2 separate regions of the Homo sapiens genome follow, and region 2 is linked to region 1. The links come from fine-mapping of genetic effects on gene expression. A gene starts in region 1. The other region holds a variant in brackets. All regions are shown on one strand. Distances are between the middles of the regions.

What was found. PIP is the estimated chance that this variant, and not a neighbour inherited with it, causes the effect.
Region 2: its variant is the best candidate, but not a certain one, in a credible set for the expression of TAFA3 in visceral fat (GTEx, PIP 0.50).

Annotation. Positions count from the first base shown.
Region 1 is chr1:112,717,641-112,720,140 of GRCh38, reverse strand. It overlaps TAFA3 (TAFA chemokine like family member 3), which reads right to left and starts at 1,236. Exons shown (of 6, transcript NM_182759.3): 1 at 842-1,236. PPM1J-DT (PPM1J divergent transcript) reads right to left here. Exons shown (of 2, transcript XR_947714.4): 2 at 2,345-2,500. RefSeq lists a silencer at 1,127-1,176.
Region 2 is chr1:112,789,943-112,792,950 of GRCh38, reverse strand. No RefSeq gene overlaps it. Among named protein-coding and RNA genes, the nearest start is that of NUTF2P4, 43 kb to the right of the region's middle. RefSeq lists enhancers at 366-938, 939-1,513. The variant G/C (reference allele first, on the strand shown) is at 1,458.

The DNA.
Region 1 (2,500 bases):
TGGCACCTGCTTCCTGGACTCACATGGAGCTGGCTTGGCTTAGCATCCCTTGCCCCCATTCCCACACCAGAGGGCTGGAATGGGGACACTCCAGGTCCCTGAGCCTTTGAAGGCCACAGCCTCCAATAGCTTTCCATTTCTCCCTAAGAACCTCTCTTCCCTCACCTCTCTAAAGGGAGGCAGAACTGAAACATATAGGATGGTGGGGCCCCGGAAGGACAGAGACCCCTGAGTCCTAGCTCCTAGGAGCGAGAGCATAAGGGGAATCTGGAGGAACACAGAGAAGAGGTGCCAGTTCCCAGGGGATGGGTGTGCTCCCTGGGCTGAGCTTCCCACTCTTCTAGATGTGCCTCTTTCCTGAGTAGAGATCTCTTCTCCCTGCCCTCCAGGAACCCTCCTTTTGACCATCACAAATGCAGCTTTGTCTTCTCTCAGGTGATCCTATTTCCCTCTGAGCTGCAACATCCTCCAATCCAACTCAGGCATCTCTCCTAGGAACCCCAAGGCCCAAAAGACCTTGGTGGGGTGGGGAGCAGAGGGGTGGGGGTGTTCATTTGGGCTCTCATCCCTGGCATTCTATTCCCTCCCTCCCTGAAACAGCTGGACATAGAAGCTTCTGGGATGTGTTTTTCGACTTCCATGCTCCTGCCTCAATTTCCTAGCCTATTTTTCCTAAATCCCAATCCAGGGGTTTAGTGAGGCTGAGTTAGCAGCCTGCATTACAAGGGTTTGAGGATGTGAACCACAAGAATCTTCAACCTTTCTTCACCTTCTCTCCCCACAAACCCCCCTAACGCCTACTCATTCCTCCACATTCTGAGCCCCCACACCTGGGACCTACCTGGTCCACGGTGATGCCCACTGGTTCGATCTGCTGGCCTGAAGTCTTCCTTGCCACTGAGCCAGGGACCAGCACTCCGAAAGACAGACTTTGGGAGGGAGCGGCCAGCTTGGGTGCTGTCTAGTCCGGAGCCCTGTCCCCTTCACCAAGTTGCTGCGCCCCCGGGACAGCGGGGTTCTGGTCAGGTTGGCATCATCCGCAGGGCGGGCCGGGCTCTGGGCACAGGGGAGCTCTGGGCCCGGCCCCGCCAGCTCTGCAGAACTCAGCCGGGTTTTTTCCAAGGTTCCTGCCGGCAGGCCGGGGAGCGCGCAGCCGCCGCCGCAACCGCCGCCTCGCCCCGGGCTACCCCCGCTCCTCCAGCCCCGCGTGGGCGCCGCCGCCTCCTTCGGGACAGTGCCAGGCGCTCGGCTGAACGGATGGGCACAGCCGAGACGCAGCGGCCCCTGGCGGCCGAGGGCAAGAGGAAGGGAGAGAGGACATCCGGCACCCGCAGGTTCAGTGAGGATGGACACCTCCGTGGTGGCAACTCAGAGGAGGTCCCTCAAAACCCTGAAGGTCTTGTGGCCCCCAGTGCCCTGGCTCAGGGGAGGTGGAGGTGCTGGGGGGAAAGGAGCTGGGAGTGAGGAGTGATTGACTAGACCCTCAGGGTTTTTGAGCTTTGAAGATTGCAGAACTGCATTGTCCAATACGGTAGCCACTAGTGGCATGTTGATATTTAAATTTAAATCTAAATTAATTAAATAAAACTTAAAATTCAGTTCCTCATTAGTAGGCACCATATTTCAAATGCTCAATAGCCACACGAAGATAGGGACTGCTGTATTGGACAGAGCAGATGTAGAACATTCCCGTCAGTGCACAAAGTTCTGTTCAGCAGCACTCTTCTAGAATGATATTTAGGAGGGAATAGTAAATATCTCTTCCTCTCCCAGGAGTGGTGCTCTCAGGGGCTGGGAGGGCTAGAGGAAGTATGAGGGTGTGGGCATTAGGCAGGAGGACAGTAGTAGGCTATGAATGGTCCCTATGGATGTTAAGTGTGAATACCAACATGGGAACCAAATTCTGAGACCTAGTTTCTTGTTTCTCTTTCTTTCTTCCTTCCTTCCTTCTCTTTCTTTCATTCTTTTTCTTTTCTTTTTTATTTATTTATTTTTTGGGGACAGGATCTCATCACTCTGTCACCCAGATCTTGGTTCATTGTAATCTCCACCTCCTGGGATCAAATGATCCTCCCATGTCAGCCACCTGAGTAGCTGGGACTATAGGGGTAGTCTGTAGTGCACTACCAAGCCAGGGTTAATTTTCTGTATTTTTTGTAGAGACAGGGTTTTGCTATGTTGCCCAGGCTGGTCTTGAACTCCTGGACTCAACTGATCCATCCACCATGGCCTCTCAAAGTGCTGGGATTACAGGTGTGAGCCACCACTCCTGGCCTGAGACCCAGTTTCTTTATCAGAAAAATTGTAATGTAATTAATTGCAACTGAATAATTCTTTACAGAGATCTGTTTTGGATGCGAATGTATTAGACAAATGAGAGGAAGTGGTGTTCTGTGAATTTGAAGGGACTTTCCTCTTAGTTTAAGAGGCCTTTGGGTTTAGGGTGATGTGAAGGGGAGAGACAAGGCAGAAGATGACCAGTTCTGGGCCCTGAGCCACC
Region 2 (3,008 bases), 73 kb before region 1:
TTTGAGACGGAGTCTCACTCTTGTCACCCATGCTGGAGTGCAGTGGCACGATCTCAGCTCACTGCAACCTCTGCCTCCCGGGTTCAAGTGATTCTCCTGCCTCAGTCTCCTGAGTAGCTGGAATTACAGGCGCCCACCACCATGCCCAGCTGATTTTTTGTATTTTTTTTTAGTACAGACAGGGTTTCACTGTGTTAGCCAGGATGGTCTCAATCTCCTGACCTCCTCATCTGCCCGCCTCGGCCTCCCAAAGTGCTGGGATTACAGGCGTGAGCCACGGCGCCCGGCCTGTTTGCTTTTTTGAGATGGAGTCTCACTCTGTCACCCAGGCTGGAGTGCAATGGCGTGATCTCAGCTCACTGCAACCTCTGCCTCCTGGGTTTAAGCGATTATCCTGCCTCAGCCTCCTGAGTAGCTGGGATTACAGGCACACGTCCCCATGCCCAGCTAGTTTTTGTATTTTTAGTAGAGACGGGGTTTCACCATGTTGGTCAGGCTGGTCTTGAACTCCTGACCTCATGATCCGCCCGCCTTGGCCTTCCAAAGTGCTGGGATTACAGGCGTGAGTCACTGCGCCCAGCCTTCTCTGCATGATAAAACCTTCATCTCCACAAGCCCTTATCTTAGCCCAGACATTCCTTTCTAGTGATTCTAAGTCTTTAGACAATAACTTAACTCTTTCAACCAATTGCCAATCAGAGAATCTTTGAATCTACCTGAGAGCACTTCAATTGTCCCATCTTTCCAGACTGAAGCAATGTACATCTAACATGTATTGATTGGTGTTTTCTGTCTCCCTAAAATGTATAAAGCCAAGTTGTAGCCCATCCACCTTGGGTGCATGTTCTCAGGATCTCCTGAGGGCTGGGTCATGAGCCATTGGTCACTCATATTTGGCTCAGAATAAACCTTGTCAAATATTTTACAGAGTTTGACTGCTTTTGTCCACAGAGGCCATTAGGCTGAGATGGCTTCAGCACCTTCAGTTCCTACATAAACAAACTAAAATCAAAGTCAACGTAAACCATAAAGTGAAAGTTAAGCTAAACCAATCAGAAACTGCCAACTATGCTCATTTTAAAGATTTCACCAATATGAAACCGCCAGCTAACGACCAAGCAGGGACTTTACACTTCAACCAAGCAAATATTTTCTTTGTGTTTCCCAAACACCTTATAAAAGGTTTTTCCTTGCACCCATTGGTGGAACCCAAACTGCTTGTGATTTGGCCCTGCGTGATTCATGAGTTGCTGTCCACTCAAATAAACTCTTTAAAATTTCAGTGTGCCCAAGTTTACCTTTTAACAAGTTTATATGCATTATCTTGACTAATAATCACAAGAATTGCCTTTATTGTTGATGATTATATGCCAGACACACTCCTGATTGGATCAGCAATTATCGGACAATTAGATTTGGAAGGGTGCAGGGTGACTACCCTGTCATTCGTAAGATAT[G/C]CCTATCTGCCAACCCAGGCCAGTCTCAGTCCCATCCATCAGCTTTGGAGCCAGCTCACCAGGAGGGGGTGGAGTGAAGGCCTAAAAGCGGGGCTAAGATAAGGGGTGGCTCTGTGCATCTCTTTGGGTTCTGAAGCCGCTCCTTCCCACCAGCCTGCGGTGTCTCCTCTCCCATTCTAAGACCAGGGCACGGGCATTTTAAAGACTATATCCGTCAAGATATATGAAGCCTTTGGAGACTATTGTGAAAGTTTACACAAATCTGATTATCCCCACAGTGAACTGAATTATAGTCAATTAGTCTAACAAGATTAGTGTCGAGTAGATTTGCTGAATTTACTGCCTTGACTGATAATGCGGAAAGGGAAGAATAAACAGACTTCTGTCTCTATCTTAGTCCTTTCCTTCATTCTTCATTCCCCTCCCCACTCAGAAACTTTTGGATCTTCAAGGGAGAGAGCTTATAAATCACACATGCCATCCACCCAATGGGGCAGATTCATCTGTTCCTGACCTCATTCTGGCTGCCCTTCCTTCCTGCTGATCAGTAAACAGTCCTTCATTACCATAGCAGCTTTGTCCTTCTTCCCTGGCAGTTCCTGTCCACTGGGGAATAATAATTGAACCAAAGTTTGGAGCTGAGAAGAAAGCGATTTTTCTTCCTTGAGGTTTGGTGTGGGTTGGGTGTGAATTGACCAGTAGTTGTGTGCAGGCTGGGGAGCTCCTGCTTCTATCATCAGCCAACTCAGAAATTTCATCAAGATCTAAATCTAAAGCCATTTCCCCTTGGAGTCAACCTGACTGGCATTCTCTTTGGTGTTTGACTTCTAAATCTCTCTCTAATGTGCCAGGAGATGGGGAGTTGGCATTAGTTCTAATTGTCAATCATCCCGCTCCACCATACCTTTATCTCCACTAACTTCACACCACCTAGCTGGAGAGATGGATCATTCCCTTCCTTTTACAGAAGATGAGGATGAAGCTCAGTTGACACCAAGCCAGGCTAGAATGCTGATGAGACCTCAGTGAGCTTTGCCTAGGTCCCATCCACATGCCCTTGGCATTCACCTCTGCCCATCCAAGGCTGCCCACTTAGAACATCTACATGCCTGGCAAACTAGAAGTGCCAGAGAGTGGAAGGCCCCAGAGGCAAAATGGCAAGTGGTAAAAGGGTGGGGCATAAGCACCTGGCTTCCTTGTCCTGAGTTGCCTCATGACAGCATGTCCCATATCATCTCCTGACGTTCCCCAGTAGGATAGGGCTCCAGTTGCCTACAGTGGTAACTGGCTTGGTAACATCCCTTCATTAACTTCCTTTCCTTCCCTATCTCACTTTACCACTCCTGATGGGTGTTTCCTGAGATTACCTCCCAAAAAATGCTTTGCACTTACATCCTTGTCTCAGGATCTGTTTCAGAGGAATTCAATCCAATATAAGACACTTCCATTTTTGGTGCCTTAACTTCTGGCTCTGCAGTAGCAGCACTAACAGCAGTAGTTGCTGGGCTTCCCTAGAGCTCCTAATGGGGCACATCTAGGGGTTCAGGATGG